Homo sapiens: one gene and its partners. The protein of the gene in region 1 purifies or fractionates together with the protein of each later gene. This does not show direct contact. Each region holds a gene or a part of one and is shown on either strand. Other genes may lie near its edges.

The links.
Region 2: the proteins of AMOTL2 (region 1) and PALS1 purify together in Homo sapiens (affinity purification with mass spectrometry; 4 studies listed by BioGRID and IntAct, with this or other methods). This does not show direct contact.
Region 3: the proteins of AMOTL2 (region 1) and LATS2 purify together in Homo sapiens (affinity purification with western blotting; 3 studies listed by BioGRID). This does not show direct contact.

What each region holds. Positions count from the first base shown.
Region 1 is NC_000003.12:134,357,448-134,365,381, reverse strand, and holds part of AMOTL2 (angiomotin-like protein 2), read left to right. Parts: intron 1-3,574; coding exon 3,575-3,870; intron 3,871-4,968; coding exon 4,969-5,276; intron 5,277-5,878; coding exon 5,879-6,099; intron 6,100-6,662; coding exon 6,663-6,842; intron 6,843-7,618; coding exon 7,619-7,677; 3' UTR 7,678-7,934. UniProt on the Homo sapiens protein: Regulates the translocation of phosphorylated SRC to peripheral cell-matrix adhesion sites. Required for proper architecture of actin filaments.
Region 2 is NC_000014.9:67,328,435-67,336,098, reverse strand, and holds the end of PALS1 (protein PALS1), read right to left. Parts: intron 3,320-7,664; coding exon 3,143-3,319; 3' UTR 38-3,142; downstream 1-37. UniProt on the Homo sapiens protein: Plays a role in tight junction biogenesis and in the establishment of cell polarity in epithelial cells.
Region 3 is NC_000013.11:20,973,923-20,981,586, forward strand, and holds part of LATS2 (serine/threonine-protein kinase LATS2), read right to left. Parts: coding exon 7,544-7,664; intron 5,876-7,543; coding exon 5,769-5,875; intron 1,443-5,768; coding exon 948-1,442; 3' UTR 1-947. UniProt on the Homo sapiens protein: Negative regulator of YAP1 in the Hippo signaling pathway that plays a pivotal role in organ size control and tumor suppression by restricting proliferation and promoting apoptosis.

The DNA of each region.
Region 1 (7,934 bases):
AGCTGAGCCATAGCAAGCCAAGTGGAGGCATCTGAGGCAGCCAAAAATGGGATCCTAGACCTTAACCAACAGATGCATTCTAAACGGGGCGGTCTAAGCATCCTTGAAGAATGGGCAAGTTCATTGACTAGTCCATTTATTCATTCATTAGCAGATGTGTTTTAAGCAACTGGCAGATGTTCAAGAGAGAATGGGAGCAGGCCCAGGAAGGTACCATGGCAGGGAGGTCAGGAAGGAAGTGGTGAGCTTAAGAAAGGAGCAGGTTCCCACAGATGCAAAAGAACAACGGGGGTGGCCCTAGAAACCGGTGATTAGGAGCCCCGGTGGCCTGAGAGAGGGGCTCTGTGGGGATGGCAGGGGTGGAGAGCCAGCCAGAGGTGAAGGAGCTATTGGGCAGTTCAAGAGGTACATGGGGTGGGTGGCAAAGGGAGCCCTGAGCTCAGCAGCAGGAGGCTCTAGCAATCAGAAGAGACTAAGAACAGTTATTTATTGAGCTCCTACTAGGAGCTTTAGTGCTGTTCAAGGTGTTTGCAGAGAAGTGGAATGGGAGTGGTTGGTAGCTGGGTAAACATGGCTTTGAGTCTTCACAGGAACCCTACTGTGAATGGCACAAAGGGTAGTGTGGGGTGCAGAAATGGAGGAGCAGCTTGAGGACTTAGCTCTGGCTGGCAGCACCCCTATCTTCCTTCAAAGAGGGTTCAAAGACTAGGGCAGGGAATGGGGGAACACAGCACTGAAGGAATTGACAGGGTGGGGCAGGAGGTAGGCTGGTCTCTTCTGGCTGGGTGGGGTGAGATGGCAGCGGCTTAAGGTCTCTGGGAAGGAGTCAAAGGGAAGGAGGGAGAAAGGGGAGGGGGCAGCCCTGGGGTTTCCCTGAGGAGTCTGGGGAGGAGAAGCTGCAAGGGCACGGCAGATTAGGGTGCCTGTGGAGGAAGGCGGACTTCTGGAGCCTGACTCTGCCAAAGAAAGGAAGCCATGGGGCGGGTTTCTGGGAGCTTGCTAGTGGGTGAGAAGAGGGGGGCCGGCCGGGAGGCGTTTCCGCTCCCCGGGGAGCGAGTGAGCGCCGAGCTGTTCTTGGCTCCTCGCTGGAGCCATTAATCTTGCAGCCGCGGGTGACCTGGATGCCTGGCATTCCAGAGCCGCGAGCTGTTCCGCTCCCGGCCCGCCCCCCGCCGCTCCCTCCCGTGCGCGCTGCCTGGCGCCCTTCGCCCGGCTTTGGGAGGAGGGAGGGTGAGCACAAAGGGAGCCTGGAACGTGGAGGTGGGGGCTCGCTCGCTGCCCAAGGCGCATCCCGGGTCCCGTCGGCGCCTCGCCTGCCTTCCTGCCCTCCTCCGCTGGCCTTCGGGCGTCCTCTTCCCACCCGCACCCAGACCACTTATTTCTTACTAAGGAGCTCTCCTTCCCGAGATCCCGCAGGCCCAAGGTTTTATCAGGGTCCTGTTGGTAGGGGATGGCCAGAGCTCAAAGCCTCCCAGCCCCCACCAGGGCCTTAGAGGTTGGACAAGGCTGCAGGAAGCTTCTGGAAGCAGAGGGCTGGGTCCTCCGGCCCCTTCCTCCCCCAGGGCTGAGGAAACCCAAGCAGCTCTTCCTTGCTCCCTAGTAGCTATTGCAAAGGGAGGTGTCTGATTGACCTCCCTTTTATCTGGGGTCAGTCAACACTAGGAAAGTGTGGCCATTATCACCAATGCCATCTGCTTTTCCTCCTAGGCAAGCCACGCAGCCCCCCAGCACTGCCCTTCTGGCCCTTCTAGGCCAGCAGTGCCCCCTGGGGATCTGGCCTTGAGGCCTGAGGCTGGCCTGTTAGCTCCACCCCCTTGGGAATATTTCTTCTCTCCCTGCGCCCCAGATTCTCCAGCTATAAGATGAGACAGAGTCCTTCCCCACAGAGTCATGCTAAGGCTGAAATGAGATGCAGGCCCTGGGCAAACTGAACGCACAGGTGGACTAGGGGAGGGTCCTCCCTGCCTGAGTCCCAACCTGGCTGCCCCTCCTCAATGGATGTTAACACCCCACTCAATGGATGTTAAGCCAGCGAAGTATGAACACATCCGTTTCAATATTATTGGACTTCCTCGTATTTTCCTCCATGCCACAGAATGATACCATCCTGGGCTCAGCCTTCAAACATCCAAAATGAATCAAGAGCTAACCTGAGTTGCCTCTGTGTCCTCCCTGCCCTGCCCCAGGGACCTGAGTAAATGAATCCTCCCTTCCACATGCCAAGGTCTCAAGCCTTCACCCTTCTGTTCCAGAACTTGCACTGTCCTATATGATAGGTACTTAGCTGCATGTGGCCCAAAGATTGAAATTAATGAAAATAAATTAAATTTAAAATTCAGTTCTCCCATCTTACTAGCCACATTTCCAGTCCTCAGTGGCACGTGTGTCTAGTAGCCACTGCATTGGAGGGTGCCGTATAGAACAATTCCACTCTGGCAGAAAATTCCACTGAATCAGAATGCTGTTCTAGAGACAGTGCCTTTAGGTTCATTAGCGGGAGCCCATAGCCCTGCCCCCCACCTGCTCTCCAGCAAGGTAGGCAGCTGACCTGCTCCTCAGGGGGCAGCCTGGGACTCTCAAGGGGCAGGTGCCTGGGAGGTGGATTTAAGGCTAGAACATCAGATGGAGGGCTCTGTGGTCTGGCTTGGGCTTCTCCTGGCCCTATGGAGAGGGCCTCTGAGCAGTTTCTTTGGGCAATTAACAAAATGATTTAAAAGTCAGGATAGCTTGACCCTTACACACTAATCTTTGGGCCATAGTCATTTTCACTGTACTGCAGACTTTGCATTTCCTTCTGAGCCTGGTTGCTTACATCTCAGTGTTCTTTTCAGACCATGGAAGGAAATGTAGCCCTCAACGGACCTCTCGGCCTGGGTCTGCAGAAGGAGCCCCAGAGCTCTGGGTGGCCTATAAGTACAAACGCCTCACCATGTAGCCAGAGGCAGCCTGGGCCTTTGTAGTGTGGCCAACTGGGGTTTCCATTTGGCAGCACCATTCACCTCCTATGTTTCTCCCCTATAAGTTGGGGATCCCAAATCCTCCCTGGAGGGGCTGGAGGATTCGTGGAATAAGATGTGTAAGGGCCTGGTGTGCCGACAGCCGATGGTGGTTCTGTTCCCCCTTCTTTCATTCTCCCACTGGAAGGAGGACCATGTCACAGCCTACCTGAGTCTCTATTTTCTCATCTGTACATGGGCATCACAGTTCCTACCTCAACAGTCTCGAGCCGTCACAAGGTTCAAGGGATATTGTGGATGTGTTTTAGACATGGTGCCCCTGGCACAAGTGGATGGTGTTTGGGGCTGTCCCATGGCAGTATGTCCCAGTAGAAAGGCAGGGTAGCCCAGTTGTTACTGCAAGGGTCCTGGAATTGGGCTCTGTCATTTACTCCTGACTTAACATGAGCCTTGGTTTCTTCTTCCATGAAACAGGGTTAATAGTGGTACCTTATTCCTGTTATTTTTGAGAGAATGAGAAGCAACTGTGCTCATCCAGTGGTCAGCACTGAGCCCAGGAGGCAATGGGGCCAGCCAACGTGGTCACTGTCACTGATCAAGCCTCTTTCTCCCTACAGGCTACGAACAGCAGCAGGAGCAAGAGAAGCTGGAGCGAGAGATGGCACTGCTGCGCGGCGCCATCGAGGACCAGCGGCGGCGTGCCGAGCTGCTGGAGCAGGCTCTGGGCAATGCGCAGGGCCGGGCAGCTCGAGCCGAAGAGGAGCTGCGCAAGAAGCAGGCCTATGTGGAGAAAGTGGAGCGGCTGCAGCAGGCGCTCGGGCAGCTGCAGGCAGCCTGTGAGAAGCGGGAGCAGCTGGAGCTGCGTCTGCGGACTCGCCTGGAGCAGGAACTCAAGGCCCTGCGTGCACAGCAGGTGAGCTGAGAAAGTCTCCAGGCTAGGGCAGCATCTGAGGATGTTGGCTTCCCTTCCTCCTCGGGGACTGTAGGTTTGGAGGCCAGGGCTGAGGCCCCGGGAGCCCCTGCTTAGATCTAGGCTGCAGGCCCGTTGGAAGGCGGCGAGGATGATTGCTCTCTGCTCCACCTTTGCTGCGTGCTCCCTTCCACTCGTTGTCTTAGTAGAGGCCCTGCCACCTGGCCCATGTCCAGCCTCGGGGGACTCCTGTCCTCGGCAGCAGCAGGGCTAGTTGTCCTTGACCTCTAGAGAAAGTAAGTCAGGAACCTGGATATAGAAGGCCTGCGAGCTTTTTTTTTTTTGAGATGGAATCTCATTCTGTCGCCCAGGCTGGAGTGCAGTGGCGCGAACGCTCACTGCAACTTCCACCTCCCAGGTTCAAGCCATTCTCTTGCCTCAGCCTCCCGAGTAGCTGAGACTACAGGCGTGCGCCACCACGCCCAGCTAATTTTTGTATTTTTAGTAGAGATGAGGTTTCACCATATTGGCCAGGCTGGTCTTGAACCCCTGACCTCACGTGGTCCGCCGACCTTGGCCTCCCAAAGTGCTGGGATTACAGGCATGAGCCACTGCGTCTGGCCACCAGCCAGCTTTTATATGCCTCCCCAAGATTGGGAGGAAAGATGGTTGTCCAGATCCACTGTGCTTAGCCTCACTTCGGACTTCTGTGTAAACAACTCTTGGTGTTTACAAACCAAATAGAGTTATTTCTCCACTCCCAAACCTACCCTTGCCACAGAGGTAGTGTGACTGAACCCCCTGGTTTGCCCAGTTCTGTTCTAATGTACACCAGTTTTCCCAGTATAATTATTGATAGCACCCCCTTTGCCAGTTTGGAGGATTATCTGTCTGGTCTCTATGCCCTTGCCCTAGGATTCAGGGCAGGGGTATGGGGACCTGTGCTGTATCCCCATTTCGGTAGAGGAAGGATGGGGAAATGTATGCTGTGTATGGCTGAACACGTACATGTACAAGTGACAGTCGTGTGGAGGCGAAGACCAGTGGCTGCCACACCCCAACCTGCACCCTTGACCACGGTCTCTACTCCTTGCTCTGCAGAGACAGGCAGGTGCCCCAGGTGGTAGCAGTGGCAGTGGTGGGTCTCCAGAGCTCAGCGCCCTGCGACTGTCAGAACAACTGCGAGAGAAGGAGGAGCAGATCCTGGCGCTGGAGGCCGACATGACCAAGTGGGAGCAGAAGTATTTGGAGGAACGTGCCATGAGGCAGTTTGCCATGGATGCGGCTGCCACGGCTGCTGCTCAGCGTGACACCACTCTCATCCGACATTCCCCCCAGCCCTCACCCAGCAGCAGCTTCAATGAGGGTCTGCTCACTGGTGGCCACAGGCATCAGGAGATGGAAAGCAGGTTCGGCATTGCAGGCCAGGCACCTGAGGTTGGGGGGGTGGGTGGCAATGTCCAGTCACTGCCCTGCCCTTGATCCCTGATAAACAGGCCCCTTTCCCCATAGAGCTCAGCAGTCCCTCCTGCTTCTGAGCTGAACCTGCATGATTGGCACACCAGGCACTGTAAACATGCATTTGCCCAGAAATACCGAGTCCTTGGTCTGCCCAGGAGACTCTTACTGTGGAGGTGTTGGGTGCCATCCAGTGCTTGGGCCCTGCCTCCCCTCTCCGGAGTGCCGCCCTCCAGGATGAGGGCTGTGCCGCCACTATCATCTGATGAATCTGGAACCCATCCTTAATGGCCTGCCTTTGCTGGTGTGAGAAGGGCCCAGGGCCTTATGCACTGGTGGTTTTCAGAGCCTGGGCTCTAAGAGCATCAAATTCCAGAGCTGTGGTGCCATTTCTAAGCCCTCTCTGGGTCCCTGCTACAAGCACAGAAGGATCCAGCCTGGCAGGGTTGGGGGAGTTGGGGGGGGCTTTTCCTCTAACTCCTATGAGGCAGGAAGGGTGGAGGCTGTTGGATCTGTGGGTCTGACAATGTGGGCATGGCCTCTCACCCCTCAGGTTAAAGGTGCTCCATGCCCAGATCCTGGAGAAGGATGCAGTGATCAAGGTCCTTCAGCAGCGCTCCAGGAGAGACCCTGGCAAGGCCATCCAGGGCTCCCTGCGGCCTGCCAAGTCGGTGCCATCTGTTTTCGCGGCTGCGGCAGCAGGAACCCAGGGCTGGCAAGGGCTCTCTTCTAGTGAGCGACAAACAGCAGACGCCCCTGCTCGGCTGACTACAGGTAAGAGGAGGCTACTGCTGGGATAGATTGAGAGGTAATTTCTCCTGGGCCTGAACACAGATTGCCAGACCTTTCCTCCCAGAACTGAGGCTATAGGAGCCAGGGCTTCCTGACCCTCTTCCAGGGGAGCTGGCTTATTCTCTGCCTCTAGTGACTCTACAGCGCAAGGCTCTCCTGCCAGTGTGAAGAGGGGTACTTAGTCCCCATCACCATAAATTCTATCATGCTTCAGCCCCAGCCACTGAACTAAGAAAAATAGAGCTTCCTGTGCAGATACACCTTGTATGCAAGCTCCCTCCACTCTTCCTTCTAAGCAGATGCCACAGAAACTCTAGAAGATTTAATCTATAAGGAAGGGTCCCACCACCCAAAACATTTGGAAGCCAATCCAATCTGGTAGTTATTCCCATTTGAAAATAGGAGCATTTTTAGTCTTAAAGTTCTTGCAAATCAAGAGCAGCCCACTCCACCTTGAATCCCCAGCAGGGACAGTTAACTTAGAGTGTCCTTCACCAGGGCCACATCTTACAGGCATGGCAATAACCATCCACCTACCTTTCCAGCAGACAGAGCACCCACAGAGGAGCCAGTGGTCACAGCTCCCCCTGCTGCCCATGCCAAACACGGGAGCAGAGATGGGAGCACCCAGACTGAGGGCCCCCCAGACAGCACCTCCACCTGCCTGCCACCGGAGCCTGACAGCCTTCTGGGGTGCAGCAGTAGCCAGAGAGCAGCCTCTCTGGGTAAGTCCTCCTGACCCCACTTCTGTGCTAGGTAGGGCCGAGGGGGCACTGGGGTGTGAACTGGAACACAAGGCCTTTTCTTCCCAGACCCCCTCCGGGTCATTGCCCGCACTCCATGGGGAGCCGTGCATAGCCAGAGGTGAGCAGGGTGCCTGGCCCACCTCAATGTGAACATGAGGGATGGCTGGTTGCATGAATAGGGAAATTGGAAACCCTGATTAGAGGCAGATCCAGAATTCAGAAAGAAAGCAACCAGATGGGAGGCACTTTAGCTCCTCTTTCATGGTCTTCCCTACATAGTTAATTTCCAATTTGATTATCCAAGAGAATGGAGCTCGCAAGTCATGCCGATGGCACTCTGGAAGCCTGTTTAAAGAGTCCGGGAAGGAGAAATCTGAGAAGATGCCATTTCTTTTTCCACTCCCCTTTCACATTGGCCTTTGCATATTTGCCTGTGCCTCATGATCTCAGAAAACCACAGGCATGAAAAGAATGCTGCAGCCTGCCTCCCTCAGGGCTCTCCATTGCTCTCTCTAAGCCCTCCAACCAGTTCAAAGTTAGAAACAAATGCATCCTACACATCGGAGGTTGGTGGGCTGGGCTGAGCACTGAAAGGGGGCAGAGCATTGTGCTTGGTTGGCCGAGTTCTGGGAACCTGGGCAGCAGAGGTGGGAAAAGTTGGTGAAGAACGATCTTTGTCTTTCAAATGTGCCAGGATTTTAAAAGCAATCTAGTAACACTCATTGGCATGTGCCTGTGTTCTTGTCTGTCTCCAGACTCTGTAGCTACATCCAGAGTCCAGGACTTGTCAGACATGGTGGAGATACTGATCTGAAGGAGGTGGTGCTTCAGGACTCTGAGCCATTCTCTCCCCTCCTCTGCCCTGTGCCACTCTCAGCCATTTCAGCAGCCCCGTCAACCGCTGCTCCGTCCCTTTCCCCAGCCAGACACTCATTCCCATTGACCATCTGGTCCCAGGAGCTCAGGAGGAGGACCCCAGGGGAGAGGAGAGCTGTGAGAGCACCGGCACCCCCAGAAGACTCTGCTTCTTAGCCCACATTCCTCCGGGCCTTATGGAGAATGAGGATTCAG
Region 2 (7,664 bases), on another chromosome or scaffold:
ACATACCTCCTTCTCCAGAAAACTTTCAAGTTCACAGCCTTGCGTTGTCCATCTTTAATACACTTAGTTGTTGGTTTTAATAATTAAGGAAACAGGACCTACCTATACCTGTGCCAACAGGGGGCACTATCCCTCTGTAAAGAACAAATCAAAAAGTATTTTGTGTTGTAGCTGGAGGATCCAATGGTCTTGCTTTTGGCAAAAACTTGAAGAGGAGGGTGGTCTTTACATGTGTGGAAACCTTGAGTGGCCGAGCAAATAGCAAGAGAAATTGCTTAGTGGCTTTTAAAATTTGAAATATAATTTTACTTTTTATTTTTACAATACAGTGTACAGTATGACATCTCAAAATAACAGTGCAGATACAGGAAAAGAGTACAAAGGGGGATTAACAACAGATGTCAGAAGGTTACCTTTATTAAGGCTAAATCCCTGCTTTATATTTTCCACACATTCACAAAATTACATTCAAATCATTCCTTATTGATCCTTATTTCTTAGGCCATGAGAAAAGGAAGATAATCCAGACATTAGATTTTCATAGAAAGCAAATCTGGATTAGTCTAAATAATATTCTCCTTCCATTTGTTCTGACAACGAAAATTTGAGAAACAAAGTTATGCACCAACCTAAAACTTCCTTATTTGGATTTTCCAAGTACATAGCATTAGTTATTGATATCATTTCTATATTAAATGGTAAGACCTCCCCCACACTGGGGTCTCCAGTCAGAACCACAGAGGGACAGGAAATGGAATTGGCCAGAGTGGCTGTACAACTAGGTGTACAGCAAGGCTTTTTTCCATATTCTTTTGTGGAGGTCAGCAACAACTCAGTTTTCACTTTAAGGACTATGTTGAATATCAGCACATCCTCATCACTAGGATTTAGAAAAGTTTAGGACATTTCTATCTACCATTGCTGATGAGGAAGGGGAGAATGATTGATAGACTTCACTGACCTTGAAATATTTATCATCTCAGACTTCCTAAAAGTATGGCATGGCATCACCTCTGCCTTGATACAAGATCTGCTTGTTAAAGCCATGTTCCTGAATCTTGACAGCACATGGCCCTAGTGCAGGCCTAATGTCTACAGCAGGCACAAGAGCCACTCACTGACACTACCTACACCCTCACTCTAACTTAACATGAACTGCCAATAGTTTAGCTCTTGGAGTTGAAAACAGTTGTCAGTTACAATAAGCAGGATCACAAAACTCCATTGTCAACCATAGACTACACTTCATTCCTGAGACGTAAACTGGAAAACTGAAAAGATTAAGTAAGTGCTAAGTATATTCCTTAGTTTTTAATGCTAAAAATCGGTGTGACCTGTGAAATTTCCTGGCTCTAAACTGGAGTATTTCAGATCTGAAGAGACAGTAGTGTATGGCATTCCTTCCCTCAACCCAAGAATGTTATTTTCTTCCTAAGGAACATTATCTTGAAAATATTTCCACATAAAACACTCTCCAGCCAACTTAATAGGCCATGCAAATTTGAACAGAAAAAGGCGACATATAAACTGTCTACATTTGTTCAAATAAAATTATGTAGAAGAAAAAAAATCAATCAAATATGTACATGACACAAATTACTCCTTAAACATAATTGCTTATGTTAAATTAAATGATGTCAGTATTATTCCAGTGTTTAGCTCTGGGTATAGGAAATGCTGTAGCTAAAGTCACCATAAAAATAAAATCAAGGCATTCACATTTGAGGTTGTTTGTTACACATCACACTATCCTAAAGGCTTGAAAAGACTGCAAATTAAGTTTCCATGCCAATTATATACGTTGAATTTTAAAGCTACAGCTATAGAGACAGTACGAAAATCCTATTAGCTTAAATGTTTCTTTTATGATTTACCAAGCTGTTGCATTCTCGTCATAAGAGGCAGACCTTGTTAGGTTAAAAACCTATTTCTATATATTTAATACCTTTTTCTCTCCAATATTCTTTTCCTAAAATGTTCAAATGACTTTCAGGTCTTCCCTTCCTTTTGATCTTAAAGTCAACTGTCATAATATTTCCCAAGGACATATATAATTTTATTCTAATGCTAAACAAGTGTTTTCAATGACCATTTGTTGATCTATTAAATATTAATATACAGTACAGCAGCTATATTCATCAACAGAATTCCAGTTTATTACCTATATATACGTAGCACAGTCATAGGATACTGTGCTCATACATAAAAATGCAAAAACTGTCAAATGTGCTATCCTCCCATGTATACAAAAAACTATTAGCATCATGAGGAAGAAACTTTTTAAGTCAATACAGATTATAATGAACACCTGCCATTCATAAAAATGTAACATACATTCTATTATACTATGCTGATGAGGGAAGGGAAGCTAAGTGAGTAAATCAGTTGAGACGACTTAAGAAAAAAATTCAGGAAATCATAATTTAAAAAAGATCAGCATATTTTGTATACCTTTAAGTAGATTAGAGTGTGTTGAGTGTAGAGTCTGATCCACAAAGTCTGAGCAAAAAAACTGGTGCTTCTAATGGAATGTTTTTTGTTTTTTTAAGAATCAAAAGACATATAAATGAATTCAAGCCTAACAAAGTAGCTTCAACCCAAAGTGGCACCATTTTGTTTTTTATTTTTCCTTTTTAGGAAAGTATCTCTGATGACTAAATTAGTTTCCTAAGCAAATACTGCCTTGCCCAGTGCATAGAAGCACAGTCCCTCTGCTCAATATTCCCAATGAAGTCATTTAAGTGTTAATGATTTAACACTTAAGAATAATCACATCAATATTTGTGTGAGACATGGACGCTTGTGTATACAAGTTTTTCACAGAGATACAACTAAGCAGAAAGGGTTTAGGTGAAAACAAAAGGTTTTAACAGGACAAAATGGAATGCTCTGTTGAAAGCTTCCATTTAGAATCCCAAAATGAGGCAAGAACCGCTAAAGCCATGTATAGAGAATAAAGGATGCCATGCACAAACTGCCTAAGGGAACTGTCGTCTCACTAATTCAAGAGATCTAAGAACAGATCTACAGCTTATACTGCTGCCTTCCATCTTATCCTCAATCTTGCTGCAGTGTCGGGCAGTCCTCCTATTGGCAGTTTTTGCCAGATCAAGTCCAACATGCCACAGAATGGATGTTTCTTTCACCTCAGCCAAGTGGATGGTACCCACTGAGGTTCAGTATCAAGTTTGTTAATTAACCTAAGCAATTCCTGATAGGCTTTATCAAGATCGGAATTCACAATTGCCGTATCAAAGTAGTGGCCATTGTTCTGCTCCATCTCTCTTGTCTTCTCAATGATTTCTCTCAACTCTTCAGGCTGCAAACAGAAGATAAAAACTGTGAGATAATTCCTTTCCTAACCAAATAATATAGGATGAGTCAGAGATGGCCAAAGAACAAGGAGCGACCTTCATAGCTTTCCTTCTGTCTCTCCCAACCTCAGGAGCTCCTTTCCAACCCTGTCACGGCCACAATGGTTACCTTTGCTTTGGCATCTTCACGACTCATATTATGAACCATCTGGGACTCAATATATCCTGTTTTATACCACTATTTAGGTTTTCACATATTTTGTCTTATCTCACCAACAAAACTACAAGCTTCAAGAACACACACTGTTTCCCTACAAACATTTGTTTTCAAACATTCTAGACACTATAACCTCTTCCTAATAGTAACATCTGTAATATGGAGTGAACCTTTCTGGTTGGAGCAAGGACCTAAAATGCCATTTACTTTTGGCTCTAGTAAAGAGCCCTTGCCCTATACTATCTGCTGCAGAGAGTTAAAAGTATCCTACCAGAGTTTGGGAAACTATATAGAGTAGCCTACTTTAAAATACTGACTGAAGGAAAGGGCCATTTTACAAAGATAAGCAGGCAGCAAGGCTATGTGCAAAACTTATCCTGAACCCTCTAATTATCAGGCACATGGGTTCAAGAAAGTGAAACTCACCTCAAATCACCCCTGCCAATGAAGACAACTAACTTAAACTCAAGACAAAATGTCTCAGATATAAAAGTCACACATCAATACTATATTGGACCCATAGTACAAAACAATTTATATCATTCAACTGTTTGAACTTCTGTAACAGTAAGAAAACATATTAAAAATATGACAACTCTGGCTTGTCCTGAGGCAGTTTCTTGCATGACTCTCATTCTGGAATGTTGTACATCTGAATATGGCACACAGAATCCTTTGTTCCCAGCAGGGAATCTACTTCACCACTGTAACTGAACACACTGACATTTTTGCTAAAACTTATGTCTACCGTAAGCTCAAGATTATTGGAAGAACATTCTAGGACTCCACAGAGAACTGAAACTTTGTGGTATTGGAGTTGAAATGAAAATGATAAAGCCCGAATCCACCTAGTTTTTATCAAATTTAAGGCATTGTTATTCCATTTTGTGCCAAAATGGCTTATATCACTTATTTAGTACTTCATGTCTGAAGTTCTCTTTCAAATTACAATCCACGACTAAGATGAAACAAAATGTTTTAGCTCAAAATTTTTAGCTGAACTAGGCAAAACTGACAATAAGTTCATACTGCTAGATAGCCACTCTCAAGCCTTCATACTAGCAGAACAGATTCAGAGATTCAGAATGCAACTAGATAACCGGTTGGTTACATTTTGTAACGCCATCATTTTCTTAGCACAATTTTATAGAGTTAAAATTGAAAATCTGTTTTACTTCAGCACTTCTATCATTGAGTAATAAAGCACTATTAGAAATACCAATACCAGCGCAGGGGCTCCCCCGCCTGTAATCTCAGCACTTTGGGAGGCCAAGGTAGGTGGATCACATGGGGCCGGGAGCTTGAGACCAGCCTGGCCAACAGGGCAAAACCCCGTCTCTATTAAAAATACAAAAAATAGCCAGGCGTGATGGTGCACATCTGTAATCCCAGCTACTTGGGAGGCTGAGGCATGAGAATCACTTAAACCCAGGAAGCAGAGGTTGCAGTGAACCAAGATTGTGCCACTGCACTCCAGCCTGGGCGACAGAGTGAGACTCTGTCTCAAAAAAAAGAAAGAAATATCACAGGAGAAAAAAACTTAAGTAGAATAAATACAATCAGATACACCATCCTCTACACCAAAAACTGTGGAATACACATCCTAACAGGTGTGCACAGAACATTCACCAAGAAAGAACAGATGTTGGGCCATAAAATAAGGCTCAACAAATTTGAAAAGACTGACATCTTTCAGGGTCTGACCACCTGGAATTATAAATCAGTTAAAATCTTTTTCACATCTCCAAATAGGTGGAAACTATATAACATACTTCTAAATAACTCATGTGTTAAAGAGAAAAACAAGGAAGCGGGGTGCCGGGGGCTCAGGCCCATAATCCCAGCACTTTGGAAGGCTGAGGCAGGTGGATCACCTGAGGTCGGGAGTTTGGGACCAGCCTGACCAACATGGAGAAACCCCATCTCTACTAAAAATACAAAATTAGCTGGGCGTGGTGGTGCATGCCTATAATCCCAGCTACTCGGGAGGCTGAGGCAAGAGAATTGCTTGAACCCGGGAGGCAGAGGTTGCAGTGAGCAGAGATAGTGCCACTGCACTCCAGCCTGGGCAACAAGAGCGAAACCCCATCTCAAAAAAAAAAAAAAAAAAAATGAAGGGAAATTAGAAAATACTTCTAACAAAATGGTAACAAAAATACAATGCCAAAACTTACGGGATGCAACTAAAGAACTGTTTCGAGGGAAATTTATAATTTCAAATGCCTACATTTGAAAAGAAGAGTTTAAAAATTAAGCATTCATCTTGAGAAACTAAAGCAAGTGCAAATTATAGTCAAAGAAAGCATAAAAAGAAATGAATTAAATAGAAAAGAGACAATAAAGACAAATGCCCTCCAACTTATTTCTTTTGCTAAAGTGTCTGATTATTCCTTTTGATAATAATAATAATAATTATTATTATTATTATTTATTTCCTGGTTCCAGATTGTGTCTTTATTCCTCTTTCTGACAGACAGCAGAGCATTTGTCTGGCATATATTCTCTCTTACCACAATATAGATGATTTTCTGTGACTTTAACAATACATACAAGAAAAAAATCACATCTTTATGCCAATACCATTCTTTCACAATACTAGAAGAACAGATTCAGAGTACAATTACATAACTGGTTGGTTACATTTTGCATCCAGTGAGTAACACCATCATCTTCTTAGTTTCTATATCTATTTATTTATTTATTTATTTATTTATTTATTTATTTATTTATTTTTGAGACCAAGTCTTGCTGTGTTGCCCAGGCTGGAGTGCAGTAGCACGAACTCGGCCTCTTCAGTAGCCAGTACCACAGGCGTGCACCACCATGCCTGGCTAATGTTTTTTGTATTTTTAGTAGAGACAGGATTTCACTATGTTGCCCAGGCTGGTCTCGAACTCCTGGCCTCAAGTGATGCGTCCGCCGTATCTCAAAATAATAAGAGCTATTTATGACAAACCCACAGCCAATATCATACTGAATGGACAAAAACTGGAAGCATTCCCTTTGAAAACTGGCGCAAGACAGGGATGCCCTCTCTCACCACTCCTATTCAACACAGTGTTGGAAGTTCTGGCCAGGGCAATCAGGCAGGAGAAAGAAATAAAGGGTATTCAATTAGGAAAAGAGGAAGTCGAATTATCCCTGTTTGCAGATGACATGATTGTACATGTAGAAAACTCCATCGTCTCAGCCCAAAATCTCCTTAAGCTGATAAGCAACTTCAGCAAAGTCTCAGGATACAAAATCAATGTGCAGAAATCACAAGCATTCCTATACATCAATAACAGACAAAGAGAGAGCCAAATCATGAGTGAACTCCCATTCACAATTGCTACAAAGAGAATAAAATACCTAGGAATCCAACTTACAAGGGATGTGAAGGACCTCTTCAAGGAGAACTACAAACCACTGCTCAACCAAGTAAAAGAGGACCAAACAAATGGAAGAACATTCCATGCTCATGGATGGGAAGAATCAATATTGTGAAAATGGCCATACTGCCCAAGGTAATTTATAGATTCAATGCCATCCCCATCAAGCTACCAATGACTTTCTTCACAGAATTGGAAAAAACTACTTTAAAGTTCATATGGAACCAAAAAAGAGCCTGCATTGCCAAGACAACCCTAAGCCAAAAGAATAAAGCTGAAGGCATCACCCTATCCAACTTCAAACTATACTACAAGGCTACAGTAACCAAAACAGCATGCTACTGGTACCAAAACAGAGATACAGACCAATGGAACAGAACAGAGCCCTCAGAAATAATACCACACATCTACAACCATCTGATCTTTGACAAACCTGACAAAAAGAAGAAATGGGGAAAGGATGCCCTATTTAATAAATGGTGCTGGGAAAACTGGCTAGCCATATGTAGAAAGCTGAAACTGGATCCCTTCCTTACACCTTATACAAAAGTTAATTCAAGATGGATTAAAGACTTAAATGTTAGACCTAAAACCAGAAAAACCCTAGAAGAAAACCTAGGCAATACCATTCAGGACATAGGCATGGGCAAGGACTTCATGACTAAAACACCAAAAGCAATGGCAACAAAACTCAAAATTGACAAATGGGATCTAATTAAAGAGCTTCTGCACAGCAAAAGAAACTACCATCAGAGTGAATAG
Region 3 (7,664 bases), on another chromosome or scaffold:
TAATCCCTTTTGATGTATATAAGTTCAGTATATGACAAATGTTTCAGTTCCCCCCCCCCAAAGAATCCAATCACAACCAAGACACACACACAAATCACTTCTCAGTTACACATCTGCATTTCTTTAACAAAACAGTAAGAGATACAATCATAGCGAAGAGGTCACCCGCACAATACATTATCAGCACACTGTCTAGAACACCTCATTTAAAGACACTCAGTAAAAACGTATTCACAGGACCTGCTGTGAATGGCAAGATATGGTAATTTTATAATAGAAGAACTCTGCTCATGCAGTACTCTCCACACACCAGACGTCGGAAATCACAGCCACATCATCACCTTGCTCACACTTCCTATTATACTAGATATGCAAAAAGCCAAAAAAAGCAGCTTTTAACATTATATCATTATATCACAATTTTGAAACATGGGAAAAAATAAAAAACAAAAACCATTGTGTGGATAAAATGGTCTCCGTGACATTGAGCAGAGTGTTATCTTTTTTTTTTTTTACATTATTGCACAGAGATTTCTCATCAATGTTCTTCAGTTTTTATGTCTTTTCCTAAATGTGAATAAGTGCTATGGATAAAATACAAATGTAGAAAATAACAGCAGCATGATTTGTCAAAGTTAATCCCTATAATTTAGTAAGAAAAAATGGATATAAACAAAATAAGTGCTCTTTCTAAACTGTACTAAATTTTCAAAAATATTGTTTTAATGCAGTGAAGGTCCTGAAAAGCCTATTGAAAGCGATGCTGAGTCCTGTTTTCAAAAGTGTCCTGTTTGGGTTTTCTTGGTGAAGAGCAGAATTTCAAGTGAAGTAATCGACGGACTAATTTAAAACAAAACAGCCCTCGGCTTCCCTATTGGCCTGTGAGGGCACCGGCTCCGGGACCCTGACCTGGGAGGCAGCGAGTGGTGGGGGTGCCTGGCCCCCATCTACACGTACACAGGCTGGCAGCCTTCAGTCTGATCCACCAGATCAGAGCTTTCTAAATCTGAGCTCTCAGCCTGTGAAGCTTCTGCTCCTGAAGGCTTTGGGCATCGAAAGGGGTAGCCATTGTCATCAAAGAACCTTCGGAAGGTGAATTCGTAAAATGCGTGCTCAGGATGCTTGTTATTGGGCGAGGTGAGTGTGTCCCAGGCCTTGGTGCTACCTTCGCTGGCATCGTTCCAAGGGCTTTCTTCATCTACGGGGTCGAAATTCGAGGTGTCCATGGGGTGGCTGATGGTGGGAACGTAGGGGGCTGGCTGCTTCCGGATGTCACTGGAGAAGTCAATGGCGCTGAAGAAGGGGTGGGCCTTCAGGTCATCGGCCCCATTCCGCCCCAGGCGGTGGTCTGCGGAGCAGCACAGCTTGGTGATGAGGTCCCTGGCCTCAGGGCTCAGCTTCACCTGGGCTGGAATGTGGAGCGTGTTCTCCCAGTTGATCACCTGAGGAAACAACAGAGCCAACAGGTTAGTTTCTCCTCACATCTTGGGCAGTTCTGGGACAGCGTGTGATGACGTGACTTTCAAATATGTTTAGTTTCACAATAGGAGAGGAGTTAGAATAGACACAAGCAGCAGTTGTTGATCTCAGCAGCCACAAAAAGTCAGTGTCATTTCAGTCGATGGCTCACAGCCTGAGGCCAGGATGACCAGTCAAATACAGACAAAAAGATACTGATTTTCTTCTATCAGAAATACTGTTTAGCCAAAGAATTTTGTGCTTTCCACAAAAATGAAGAGAATGATGGTCTACAAGTTCTTTCTTTCTTTTTATTTTTTTGAGATGGAGTCTCGCTGTGTTGCCCAGGTTGGAGTGCAGTGGTGCGATCTTGGCTCACTGCAACCTCCGCCTCCTGGGTTCAAGCGATTCTCCTGCCTCAGCCTCCCGAGTAGCTGGGATTACAGGCGCCTGCCACCACACCCGGCTGATTTTTGTATTTTTAGTAGAGACAGGGTTTCACCACGTTGGCCAGGCTAGTCCTGAACTCCTGACCTCAGGTGATCAGCTAAAGTTATTTCTTTAGCTATGGCAATGGCTTTCTGCAAACCATCATGACGCTCATTCAAATACTTATTGCGGTCAAAAAACGGCCAACTGGGGTTTTGAAAAACAAACAGGAAAAACTTCATAGGGAAGAATAAAGCTGACTGACCCCATGTGACCTTACATGCTCAACTGCACAAACCAGCCATCTGGACGTTCAGTAAATGCACTTGTTGTAGAGATGTGTCTACTGTGAAGACAAAACCTAGGGGACTTCTTTATTGTTTACACTTAGAATCAGGAGGAAACAAGGCCAACATGACTGGCTACCAGCTGGGGTGATGGGACAGCGGATAAGGCATGGAAGTTAGTGGGTGTGTGGGTGGTAGGCTTGGTTTGAACCTAAGTAGTTGTTTTCATAGAGCTAAAACTGTAGAGCTCCTAGAAGAAAACATAGGGTGAAATCTTCATGAACCTGAGTTTGGCAATGATTTCTTAGACATGCCACCAAAAGCACAGGGAATAAAAGAAAAAATAAATTGGACTGCATAAAAATTTAAAACTTTTGTGCATCGAAGGACATTACTGATAGCAAAAAGGCAACAAAATGGGAGAACAGATTTCAAAACATGTATTTGAAAAGGGGTTAGTACCCAGAGAAAATACAGAACTCCTACAACTCAACAACAATAACAAAACCAAATAAGTTGATTTAAAAAGGGTAATGGACTTGAGGAGATATTTCCAAAGATATACAAATGACCAATAAGGACATGAAAATAAGCTCAATATAATTAAACACTAGGGAAATACAACTCAAAACCACAATGAGATACCACCTTACATCCCCTAGGGTGGCTACTACTTAAAAAAAACAAAAACAGGAAAATACTTATTGAGGATGTAGGGAAACTGAACACTCAGTCACTGTTGGTGGGAATGTAAAATGGTGCAGCCACTATGGCAAACAGTTTGGGAGTTCCTCAAAAAGTTAAACACAGAACGACCATATAATCCAGTGGGATATAAACCCACTTTCTGGTTTATATCCAAAAGAACCGGAAGCAGGGACTCATACAGTGGAATTATTATTCCACCTTAAAAAGGAAGCTACAACAATGGATGAACCCTGAGGACATTACGCTAAGTGAAATAAACTAGACACAAAAAGACAGATACTGCATGACTCCACTTACAAGAAGTCCCGAGGCCAGGCACAGTGGCTCACACCTATAATCCCAACATTTTGGGAGGCTGAGGTGGGTGGATAACTTGAGGTCAGGAGTTTGAAACCAGCCTGACCAACATGATGAAGCCACATCTCTACTAAAAATACAAAAATTAGCTGGTGTTGTGGCAGGCACCTGTAATCCCAGCTGCTTGGGAGGCTGAGGCATGAGAACCCGGAAGGCAGAGGTTGCAATGAGCCAAGATTGTGCCACTGCACTGCAGCCTGGGATACAGAGCAAAACCCTGTCTCAAAAAAAAAAAAAAAAAAGTCCTAAGCATAACCAAACTCACAGAGACAGGAAGCAGAAGAGAGGCGAGCAGGTGCTGAAAAGGAGAGTGGGGAGTTTCTGTTTAATGGGTTTGGGACGATTAACACATTTGAAAATAGAGGGTGGTGATGGTTGCACAATATTGTGAATGTACTTAATGTCACTGAATTATACACTAAAATAATTAAAAATGGTAAATAATTAAAATAATTATTAAATAAATGGTAATTAAAATAATTAAGATGGTAAATTTTAATTTACCATTAAAATAATTAGATGGTAAATTTTAATTTACCATTAAAATAATTAGATGGTAAATTTTAATTTACCATTAAAATAATTAGATGGTAAATTTTATGTTATGTATATTTTACCAGAATAAAAAAATCTGAATTATCATGTGGGCAATTTAGTGAGTAGCTCAGCCATTCAATTAGGGCGCAGATAATGCCAGATTCCAATTTTACTGTTCCTAGAGTGAAACTAAGCCTTACTTTAGGGTTTTTCGATTTCTCTTTTTTCTTTTTTTGAAACAGAGTCTCGCTCTGTCATCCAGGTTGGAGTGCAGTGGCGTGATCTCGGCTCACTGCAACCTCTGCCTCCTGGGTTCAAGCGATTCTCCTGCCTCAGCCTCCCAAGTAGCTGAGACTACAGGCGCCCGCCCCCATGCCAGGCTAATTTTTTGTATTTTCAGTAGAGACGGGGTTTCACTACGTTGGCCAGGCTAGTCTCGATCTCCTGACCTCGTAATCTGCCCGCCTCCGCCTCCCAAAGTGCTGGGATGACAGGCATGATCCACCACGCCCAACCTTACTAGACAGATTTTCTAATTAAAGTTATTAATTTAGGCTCCCTGGCCTAATAACCACATGCCCTGGTGGCTCACATGACCACCAGGGCATGTGAAAATTCCAAGGACTGTGTGTCAGTTGGTATGTCCACAGAAGACTGCAGATTCTTAATTTCAATTCTCAGTTCAACCCTTAGTAACTCATTTCAGAAAGCAAATGGCTGTCATTTTAAAACTAATAATTTAGTATTAAATGACTGACAATTATTTAACTACTTTGAATGAATATTAGGAATATGCACAACTAGCCTGACCACATAGCTGACAGTTTGCGAACAATGATATAATATCCAAATAAAGAAACTGCTTTCTTTAGATACAGTTGACCCTTGAACAACACAGTTTGAGGGTCACTTACACTAGCATTTTCTTCCACCTTTGCCATCCCTGAGACAGCAAGGCCAATGCCTCCCCTTCCTCAGCCCACTCCACATGAAGATGACAAAGATGGAGACCTTTATGATGATCCACTTTCAATTATTAAAATAGTAAACCTATTTTCTCTTCTTTATGATTTTTTTTCTTTAGACAGAGTCTCACTCTGTCACCCAGGCTGGACTGCAGTGGTGTGATCTCGGCTCACTGCATCCTCTGCTTCCTGGGTTCAAGTGGTTCTCCTGCCTCAGCCTCCTGAGTAGCTGGGATTACAGGTGCACACCACCATGATGGACTAATATTTTGTATTTTCAGTAGAGACGGGTTTCGCCATGTTGCCCAGGCTGGTCTTGAACTCCTGACCTCAGGTAATCTGCCCACCTTGGCCTTCCAAAGTGGTGGGATTATAGGCATGAGCCACTGCGCCCAGCCTATGATCCTCCCAAAGTAGTGGGATTACAGGCATGAGCCACTGCGCCTGGCCAGCATTTTCTGTTCTCTAGCTTGCTTTATTGTAAGAATACAGGATCTAATACATATAAAATACAAAATATGTGTTCATTGACGCTATGTTACTGGTAAGGCTTCCAGTCAACAGGCTATTAGTAAAGTTTTTGGGGAGTTGAAAGTTATGCAGATTTTTGACTGTGCAGGGGGTTTGGCACCCCAAACCCCTCATTGCTGAGGGGTGAACTATAGTTCCTGGAGTTCCGTGTGTTCTCTGCAGGGCAGGTGTGGGTGGGGGAGACAGTGGATCAGCAGCACACCTTTGCTGATCCTCACTGTTCTTGCCTGGAAATAGCAAGGTGGCAGATGGCCAAGGGTTTAATAGAATTTCAGATATTAAAATGGGTCCAATTCCATGGCTTTGCTTATCAAAATAGAAAATTTAAAAATAGATAATTTAAAAAATAATGAGATTATTTTTAAAAATCCCATCCTATACAACTGCCATTCCTACCCTACTCAGAATAAGAGGGCAAATGCTGACCAAAGATTCATGGGTACATGAGCAAATCAGATGTCTACAGCAAGCAGATGCGTGGTTCCTCTCACATTACCTTCAGCTGGGTTTCTGTGGGAGTAGGTGCCAAAAAGGGCGGCTGCCCCACCAGCATCTCGAAGAGAATCACTCCAACACTCCACCAGTCACAGAGTTGAGTGTACCCTGCAAGACAAAGTTCACTCAATCCCTACACAGGCATGAATTCTCCTCCGAGGTGAATTTCATTAAGATGCTGAACATACAGATTTCCTGTTAAGTGGGAAAGCGCGTTGAAGCATCGCACTGTGCGCAAGATGGACCTATGTAAGTACCTGGATACTACTGGGTGGGGTGGTGGGGGGCGGTGGCCATGGCCGCTTAGGTTTTTGTATTTTTAATCATTGTAATAAGAAAATACTTTTTAATTTAAAAAGATTATTTTTATTGTTAGCAAATAGTTACTAGCCAGAATTTTATGTTCTTAAAGATCACAAACAGAGGCACCAATTAAAATAACAGAACTGAAAAACATAAAGTGCTATAACCTGTGAATAGTCAGGTGAGGGTCAAGGGAGGCTTCTAAGTCAGTTTTGGATGAAGCTGAAGAATACGGAGATGAGGAGGAGGTGGGCAAAACCCACCGGACAATTCACTGTAAGCCAAACACTCCTTGTGTGAGGCCCCTACGGAGCCGGGCCTTCCTCACGGGGCTCCCAGCTGTGCTGGGTCAGGGCTGGCCTCTGGGAGGCTGTAGGCTAGGCTCGTTTACCTCTTATTTTCTCCCACTTTTCCTTCAGAGCCTCATGACCCATCAAGCCAGGATCGTCTTCATGTCACCTAATCCTTGCTAAGTATAAACTGGGATGTTAAGAGGTCAGTCTGCGGGTGCCTGCAGCTGCATATGCCAGGGTAGCCCCCTCAGGCCCCTCTGCTATCTCTCCGTCCCACCTCTTCCTGTCCAAGTTTGGCAACAGAGGCTGCAGAAAAACCCCAAGCAATGGTTTCTTGAGAATGCTGCACGTGGTAGAGGGAAGTAGACCTTCACTGGGCACCAAGGTTATTCACAACCTCTCAAGGTCGTTATTGCTATGTCTGTGGTCTGAGTAGTTAAGTAACTTGTGCTGGATTACCACAGCTAGCAAAGAAAACCCAGACTTGAACTGAGTCTGGCTGGCTCCAAAGGACTTTAAACAACATGTGATGGCAGGGGCTGCCTGTCTCTGGATTAATTACACCCCATTGTCACTGTGGACCATGCAGGATCACTGAAGGATTCCTCCTATACTGAACCAGATGTTGCATTTGACAGAATGAAGCATCCATCCAGGAGGCAAATGTTATGAGCACTAGTCATTTTACACAACTGGCACCTGCCACTTTTGCTTATGGTCTAGCAGGGAGAATGAGAGAAAAAGGATCTTCCAACGCTGTCACATAAGCACCCAGCTGCACACGGCACAACTCAGCCAGGAGCCTGAGACAGAAGTTAAAGCTAGAGCCCGGAAATGTGTGGTCTGGGCAGACTGAGCAGAGGTCCTGTGGCCCTCAGAGTGGTTTCCATCATCTGACTGTGAAAATCAGGGCTGGAGTCATTCCCTTGGGTCTAGGTAGAGCCCGAGGGCCAGCAGACACTGGTCTAATGGTGCATGTCTTCCAACCCCCTGAAGCAAGAGCACTTCCAGGACAGGAGGGAGGCTTGTATGTTGCAGAAATTAGTAGCTTTCAGGCTTCTATGAGGACAAAAATATGACTGGAAGCATTAGGTCCTTGGAAAGCTAGAGCCAGCGAGACTCAGCTCACGTCTGAAGGGAAGGAGACCTCCTGCGGGGTGGCTGGCCATGGCGCATGTACCTTTGCGGAGGAGCACCTCGGGTGCGATGTAGTTTGGAGTCCCCACCAGTGAATGTGCCAGGCACCTCTGGTGCTGCTTCCGCGCCCTCTGCTCTAGGGTCTTCAGCCTGTCCCCACACCG